2 separate regions of the Homo sapiens genome follow, and region 1 is linked to region 2. The links come from fine-mapping of genetic effects on gene expression. A gene starts in region 2. The other region holds a variant in brackets. All regions are shown on one strand. Distances are between the middles of the regions.

Evidence for each region. PIP is the estimated chance that this variant, and not a neighbour inherited with it, causes the effect.
Region 1: its variant is the best candidate, but not a certain one, in a credible set for the expression of NEGR1 in nucleus accumbens (GTEx, PIP 0.90).

The regions. Positions count from the first base shown.
Region 1 is chr1:72,368,827-72,373,210 of GRCh38, reverse strand. The region is part of intron 1 of LOC105378797 (a long non-coding RNA gene); the gene reads right to left. Among named protein-coding and RNA genes, the nearest start is that of NEGR1, 88 kb to the right of the region's middle. The variant A/G (reference allele first, on the strand shown) is at 1,655.
Region 2 is chr1:72,280,705-72,285,088 of GRCh38, reverse strand. It overlaps NEGR1 (neuronal growth regulator 1), which reads left to right and starts at 2,550. Exons shown (of 7, transcript NM_173808.3): 1 at 2,550-2,770. The coding sequence starts at 2,595. LOC105378797 (a long non-coding RNA gene) reads right to left here and starts at 2,155. Exons shown (of 6, transcript XR_947506.3): 1 at 1,684-2,155. RefSeq lists an enhancer at 1-732 and silencers at 2,114-2,203, 2,304-2,363.

The sequences.
Region 1 (4,384 bases), 88 kb before region 2:
TTAAGTTAGCAACTTCAGAAAAATTCTGAACAACAAAGTTTGAAAAATGTTTTCATCAATGGACACTTTTATACAAACACATGTTCAAACATACATACACTAAATAACTCAGACATAAGTTAGCAAACCAGAGTTTTTACTAAGTCATGATAATTTAAAAATAGATTCTTATTCTATTACCTTATCTATAAACAAATCAATTAGAATGTGTGTATGTGATGGATAAATAAATGTACAGGCCAAAAATGTCTTTGAGACTAGAGATTTGGCCTGACAATTGGAAGAAACAGAGTTTTTGTTTACTAAAATTTATAATCATGCAAAAGAAACAACTTTGAGCAAATTTGGTTGTCATGGTGGTTGCTAGATATGAGGAATCAGGAATTCAGTTCATATAAGATATTTCCTTTGCACATTCAAATGGAGATATGGAAGATGTTTTAATATAGATCTGAAATTCAGATAAAAGGTCCAAATTGGTAGTATACGTTTTAGATTCCACCTATGCCAGAGTGCAGTGGCATGATCTCAGCTCACCACAACCTCCACCTGCCGGGTTCAAGCGATTCTCCTGTCTCAGCCTCCTCAGTAGCTGGGACTGCAAGCACACCACTACACCTGGCTAATTTTTTGTATCTTTTTAGTAGAGACGGGGTTTCACCATGTTGGCCAGGCTGGTCTCAGACTCCTGACCTCAGGTGATCCACCCATTTCAGCCTCCCAAAATGCTGGGATTACAGGCGTAAGCCACCGTGCCCAGCTGCATTCTGACCTTTTAAAACTAAAGAAGAGGAAAAAGAAGGATTTAAGGAGATTGCCATGGATTGCTCTTTTGTTGGAAGGAAAACATAACCCTGTGGCAGGATTATATCTCAAAGTATTAATGTGTTTTTTGTATACATTCTTTCTCTTCAGCTCTCTCACTTTTATTCCAAGGGACAATTCATGTTCCCAACTCAGACTGAAGTAAAAAAATGGTAAAAATAGTTTGCAATGAGAGACAAAGATTCTATCTATAGATGTATAATTGTAAGGTTTAATTTTCATCTTTGTAAAACTAGGTAAGATAGTACCTGGGAAGTAAAAGAAAGAGAGCCTTTTCACACAGAATGCTCAAAAACAAAGTGAAAGAGATAGTCAGAATAGTTATTGAGGACACCGAAAGGCCTGTCCCTTCCTACTTCAATATCACTGAATGCGGGGGTTGGGTCAAGACGGCAGACTAGAAGAAAGCTCATGTGTGCTGCTCTCAGGGAGAGGAAACAAAAAGGCTAGTGAACACTGACTGTGAATGACAATCATCTGAGAAACAAGGTCAGGATAAATCAAAGCAGGAGGGAGACACTGAGAGCACAGAGGAGTGAAGCTGGGCACCAGCCTGACTGTGATCAGCGCAGTGCCAGGAGTATGTCTCCAACCTGGGAAAGGGTAAGTGACTCACAGCCCCCTGGGTGATTCATACTCTAAACAGGTACCTGTGCAAGACTGGAAATGGGTGAATACCCCTGGCCCTCCCATACCTCCAACCTCACTTCTAGAATGAGGCAGAGAGCCCCTCAAACATTTTGCAGAGGCAAATCCCCTCAAGTCCAAGGTGACTTCTATAAGTCTTGGCCCCTGGAGCAGACCAACACCAGCACCATACCCCCAACAG[A/G]GTCTGCAGTTGCAGTGCCTGGGGGCAGTAAGATTTTCCCCTCCCTGGAAAAGGCTCAATGTGGCTTCTGGTCTAGCAGGACAACTTCTCTCTGAACTCAGCCAGTGGCCACAGCCCCCTGCTGTCTGGGGAAGGAAAGTACCCAAACAGCAGGATGGGCAACCCCACCCACCCCCACCACTAGTAACCATTGAGCTTCTTGTCATTCTGGGAAGCATCCAGATGGCAGAGCAGACAACTCAACCTAACCCCACCACTGGTAGCTTCCAGCCAAATGAGCCAATTTTGCCTGAATTTGCAAAGGGTGCTGTATTAGTCAGGGTTCTCTAAAGGGACAGAACTACTAGGATAGATGAATATATGAAGGGGAGTTTATTAGGAGAATTGATTCACACAGTCACAAGGTGAAGTCCCACAACAGGCCATCTGCAAGCTGAGGAGCCAGGAAGCCAGTCCAAGTCCCAAAACCTCAAAAGTAGAAAAGCGGATAGTGTAGCCTTCACTCTGCAGCCAAAGGCCTGAAAGTCCCTGGTGAATCACTGGTATAAGTCCAAGAGTCCAAAAGCTGAAGTACTTGGAGTCTGATGTTTAAGGGCAGAAAGCATCCAGCCAGGGAGAAATGTGGAGGCCGGAAGACTCAAACAGTCTAGTCTTTCCACATTCCTCTGCCTGCTTTTATCCTAGCCACGCTGGCAGCTGATTAGATGGTGCCCATCCAGATTGAGGGTGGGTCTGCCTTTCCCCATCTACTGACTCAAATGTTCATTTCCTTTGGCAACACTTTCATATACATACTCAGGAACAATATCCAATCAAGTTGACACTCAATATTAACCAATACAGGTATAGCCTCCTCTTGCCCTGGAAACACATAGATGGCAGGGTGGGCTACTCTAGCTATCCTTGCCACCTGTAGCCAAATGGTCCACACATGCTAGATCTTCAAACTCAGTGGTCTCACTTCTGCTGGAACTCTGTGAGCAGGCACAACTCTGTTTTCTCCTGGGAAGCACTGGGAGAGCAGATTTGGGCTGACACAGTAAGAATACAGCCTGGTTGCCAACTGTGGTCCCTGCATGAAGGAGCCCCATGCACCAGAACACCCAACCAAAGAGGGACTCCTTCAAGACCCAGAAGCAGAATAGAATTCAAGCCAGTCAACTGAACCTACCTTAAACCACAATCAAGCCCACAAGGGCATCTAAGAAGATAAAAGCAAAAACAAACAAACAAACAAACAAACAAACAAACAAAAAACACCTATTCAAAAACAGCAATTTGAAAGACTGAAGGAACATCAGCCCATACAGAAAAGAAAGAACGAGCACAAGAACTCTGGCAACTCAAAAAGCCAGAGTGTCTTCTGACCTCTGGAAGATCATATTAGTTCTCTAGCAATGGTTCTAAACTAGGCTAAAATGGCTGAAATGTCAGAAATAGAATTCAGACTATGAATAAGAATGAAGATCATCAACCATCAAGAGAAACTCAAAATCCAACCCAAGGAATCTAAGGAATACAATGAAATGATATAGGAGATAAGAAACAAAATGGCCATTTTAAGAAAGTACCAAACTGATCCAATAGAGGTGAGAAACTCACTTCAAGAATTTCCTAATACAATCAGAATTATTACCAGTTGAATCGACCAAACTGAGGAAAGAATCTCAAAGCTTGAAGACCAGTTCTCCAAACTAACTCAGACAAAAATAAAGAAAAAAACAATAAAGAAGAATGAAAAAACTCTGAGAAATATGAGATTACATAAAGAGATCAAATCTGTGATTTACTGACATCCCTGAAAGAAGAGAGAAAGCAAGCAAGTTGGAGGACATATTTGAGGTTACCATCCATGAAAATTTCCCCAACCTCACTATAGAGGCAAACATTCAAATTTAGGAAATGCAGGGAACCCCTGCAAGATACTATACAAGATAACCATCCCCAAGACACACAGTTATCAGATTCTTCTAGGTTGAAATGAAAGTAAAAGTGTAAGTGAAAGAAAAAAGGCAGCTAGAGAGAAGAGGCAGGTCACCTACAAAGGGAACCTCAACAGGGTAACAGTGGATCTTTCAGGAGAAACTTTATAAACAGAAGAAATTGAGGACCTATATTCAGCATTCTTAAAGCAAAGAAATTCCAACCAAGAATATCATATCTAGCCAAACCACGCTTCATAAATGAAGGAGAAATAAGATCCTTTTCAGATAAGCAAATGCTAAGGGAATTTGTTAATACCACCCAAGAGGTCCTTAAGGGAGTGCTAAATATGGAAAGGAAAGAGCATTACTGGCCACCACAAAAACAGACTTAAGTACATAAGCCATTGACAGTATAAAGAAACCACAAAATCAAATCTGCATAATAACCAGCTAACAACATGTTGACAGGATCAAATCTACACAAATCAATATTAACCTTGAATGTAAACAGGCTACATGCTCCAATTTAAAGGCACAGTATGGCAAGTTGGATAAAGAAGGAAGACCCAACTGTATGCTGCATAAAAAAGACCCATCTTACATGTAATGACAACTTCAAGCTCAAAGTAAAGAGATGGAGAAAAATCTACCAAGCAAATGAATAAGAGAAAAATGCAGGAGTTGCTATCCTAATTTCAGACAAAACAGACTTTAAACCAACAAAGATCAAAAAAAACAAAGAATATCATTATATAATGTCAAAGGTTCCAACTCAACAAGAAAACCTAACTATCCAAAATATATA
Region 2 (4,384 bases):
AAATAATACTGCATAGCTTTGCCCATGTATGTGACATGTCAAGTCTTCTAATCCCCCGTTTGCCCTAGATAATTTTACGCTTTATCCATCAGCGTGCCACGCAAGATAGAAAAATGCAGTTAACAAGATGACAGTGTTACTTAGGTATTTGGCATCGATATTAGTGAGAGTCTGTCATTTCACAATTATTTCCCTAGCATACCAGACGGTAAAGAAAATGTTTTCATTCATCCGCAAATGACTAACATTTTATTGATGTTTCAAAATGCGGTTGAAACTATTGCACTCTCAGTTTCCGAGTCGGTTTTGAGAGTTAAGGCAGAATACTAACATCAGTGACTCCTGACGCAAATGTCTCCGTTAGCTGCCCAGCCTTGGAGTGCCAGTTCAGCAGGGAGGTGTTGCTAGTTAAGGATTCGTCTGTAAGCCAGTCTGGGTGGTCACAGGTGATGGGAACCCTTCCCTTTCCCCATATATCCCCGTGCATGGCGATAAAAATCACTCTGAACACTGCTACCACCAAGCAAAACGACTCCCTGCCTGCCTCGTAAAGAGCTCAGTCTGCGGAGGCAGCCGGATGCTGACCCCTGCAGAGAGTCTTGCTTCGGTGCGCTTTGCCAAATGACCCTGCTAGCATTATGGAAAACGAGTTACGGACGTGTGAGGTTTTGCTTCATTTCCTCCAAAAGAAGAACTGGGATCTGGCAAAGAATATCTTCTTCAAACACTGCTAAAGGGGGATGGGGTGGAGGAAGGGAAAAAGTGTGTGAGGGGGAGGGAGCTTATTTTTTAATTACTTATTTTCCATTTTCACTTCCCCGCTCTGCTTCCCAAACTCCTCGCTGAACAAGATTGATTGGTGTAACTGCTAACGACTCAGCCTCGGTTCTCGCATTGATTTGCAAATGGCCCGGAAAAGCTTAAGGATCTTGAATCTGGAAATGAGTTCAAGAAGGAAAGAAGAAAAAAGAGTAGGGGTGGCCCCACGCCTAGTATCTCCTTCTGCCTTGGGCCAGGGCAGGGCTGAAAACAGCCCGGCGAGCTGCGGAGGGGCTGCTGCGTGGGGAAGCGGAGGTTACCGCTCTGCACCGCGGAGGAGCAAGCCTGTTAACGCGGTGTGGAGGCTGTTAAGAAATACAACCCTGCGACTCGTTAAACCCCTTAACTCTGCCCTGCCTTGACTCGGATGCGCCGATTATTCGGCCTGATAGGCTCAAATGGGTTAAACTGCCTCTTACATAACTGGACCGCCTGGGCTCTACACAATTAAAACACTTGATTGCAGTCTTTTCCCGACTCTACATCCCAGCATGACCCGCCCCGTCCCTCCCAGCGCGCCTGCGTGCCGCGCGTGCACAGGCCCCCGCGCGCACGACACGCTCTCTATCACACACACACTCCATGTTGACCATAAACAATCCCCTACTCACACACACAACTTAGTGTCAACACCCACAGATAAAAGAGGGGCGTCCTGCAATCCATACGGGCCGACCGCCACAAACACGCAAGCTGCTCTGCCGCAAGGCCTTGCACCTCCTCGTGTCCCCGCAAAAAAGCAGCGCCCCGCCACCGTCCCTACCTATTCCCGAGAAAACGCAGAGAGAACTAGTTGGCTGCTCGCTAACTGCAGCGTAGCCACCCAGGCAAGATTAGAAGAAAATAAACAAAAAAACAACTCACAGTCGCCGGCGTCATGATGGCGCCGACCACAACTTGGAGGACTTCAAACTTACGGTGCCTCGAGAGGTAAAACGCACCGGTGAGGGAAGGCAAAGCGCCCCTCAGCTCTCTTCACCCCAGCCCTGACACGGAGACTTTTCTAGCAAAGAATCCCTCTAGCGCTTACGACAGTAAGGAGAGCCTTCATTCTAAGGTGCCTCTCTTTCCCCCTTAGTTTGCATAATTGTGATACAGTTCCTCCTATTTTTTTTTTCGTTGTCTTGCTTTTCTTTTTTTTTTCTTGCTATCTTTTTTCTTTCTTTTTTTATTATTTTTTTAATCCCCCTCCCTTCTCCATCCCCAGTCCCCTGGCGGGGTTGCTAAGGAAACGGCCGCTTGGCAACGCGCGCGAGCCCGGGAGCCGGCGGCCGGCGCAGCGCTCCGCGCTGCTTCTGCTGCTGCTGTTGCTGTTGCTGCTGCTGCTGCTGGGATTGCAGCCGCCGCCGCCGCCGCTCGCCCTGCCTCCTCCCCCGCCGCCGCGCCTCCTCCCTCACTCGCCGGCGCGCTCGCCTCCTCGCTAGATGGTGTGCGAGCCGCCCGAGAATTAGACACACTCCGGACGCGGCCAAAAGCAACCGAGAGGAGGTGTAGTGTGGTGCCAGGGGGAGGGAGGGGAGGGAGGGAGGGAAAGCGAAGAGGAGGAGGGGAGGCAAAAACACCGAAAAACAAAAAGAGAGAAACAACACCCAACAACTGGGGTGGGGGGAAGAAAGAAAGAAAAGAAACCCACCCACCCACCAAAAAAAAAAAAAAAAAAAAAAAAAAAAAAAAATCCTGTGGCGCGCCGCCTGGTTCCCGGGAAGACTCGCCAGCACCAGGGGGTGGGGGAGTGCGAGCTGAAAGCTGCTGGAGAGTGAGCAGCCCTAGCAGGGATGGACATGATGCTGTTGGTGCAGGGTGCTTGTTGCTCGAACCAGTGGCTGGCGGCGGTGCTCCTCAGCCTGTGCTGCCTGCTACCCTCCTGCCTCCCGGCTGGACAGAGTGTGGACTTCCCCTGGGCGGCCGTGGACAACATGATGGTCAGAAAAGGGGACACGGCGGTGCTTAGGTAGGAAGAACGGCGTGCTTTTCGTACTTGTTTCGGTCTATCTTTCTGTCTCTCTTTGAACCCTCTTTGCCTTCTTTATAACACAAGCAATAATGCTGGTGGTGCTCATCATGGAAAGACCACATCCCAAGAATTCCAGGTGCAGATTCTTCCCGGAGCCCCGGCCCGTTTATGCTGGGGCAGGTAGCAAGCTGGACTCGTGATGCTAAAGCACTTTGCCGGAACGCCAAGTAGCCTGGGGATGAGTGAACTGTCAGGTTTAGAAGGAGGGGCAGGTGCCACTTTGAAACTCAATGCACAAGGTCTCTGTTTTACTGTCATGGGGTACTCCTGGAGAGTCTGACAAGTTTATCAGGTTTGTTTCTATTTTACTCCAGCATAAGCGACTCTTTCAAACTGCTGTTCTCTGCTCCCATTTATTTTCCCTCTCACTTGGACACTTAGGCTCGATTTCTTGCTCTTTATCTTTCTTTCCTTTTACCGCTTTCTGTTTTCTTTCTTTTCTCCTTCCTCATTCTCTTATACCATTTTCCCCACCTCCTTGTAACTCTTTTTCCCTCCAATATCTCTTTTCATACCTTTTCTATTTTCTGTTTTTTCCCTCCTTTTTAAAATTTCTTCTCATATTTTCTCATTTTTATCTCCACGACTCTAATTTCTGTTCCTCACATTTAATCCCCTTTCCTCCTCTCTTTTACCCTTTTTTCTTTTTGTCTATTTTTTTTATTCCTCCTTAATGTCCCTATCCTGTGCCCTGTCTTCCCTCTTTTGACTCCCATTTCTCATCCCTCTCCCCATACCGTTTCCCACCCCTGTGGCACACACAGGCATGGTCACTGTTCCCCTCCAGTACCATTTACTCACCCTCATAAATCTTATTTCCATAAACATACTAACTCACATACTCTCACATCCTCACATGCACTGGCACTTCCATGCTGTAAGAACCACTTCCACATTCAGATTGTCTCTCACTGTTTTTAAAAGGCATACTCTCCTTCTCTGTTCCACATTGTCACTCACACATGTGTACACACTGCCTGTCTCACTCGCTGCTCTCACTCTGTCTCTGCTTCTCTCTTTTTCTCTTTCTGTGTCTTTCTATCCCCTTTTTATTCCTACCTTCCTCCCTCCATCAGTCTTCACTTTTACTTATTTTTCTCATTTTCCCTTCTTTCCTCTGAGCTTGAGCTCTGAGGTGGTTTGTCATTAATAAACATCCATACCCTGATTTTACCCCTAAGCAACACTGCAGAGTGGGAGTCTGGGAATATTTTATTTCCTATGAAAATATAAATGGATGATCAGCAAAGCTTAGATCTAAACAAAGCTAAACGCCCTATTCCTTCATTTCTTTCCCATCACCCTCCCTTCTCCCCCTGCCACCCCACCTCACATTTCCCTGAAAGATCTTCTTTTTCTCCACTGGGTGGTAGTTGGCTTGTAAGTCTGGCTTGCACAACATCAGTGTACATGACATGTCTAAGGTGAAAGAGAGTGGGAAATGTTTCTGTTTGAAACATGCAACATATTTAAATTTAATGATGTGGGTGTGGTATATGACTTACACCTTTTGGAACATGCCTATGAGTTCAAATTTGGAATACTATCGTA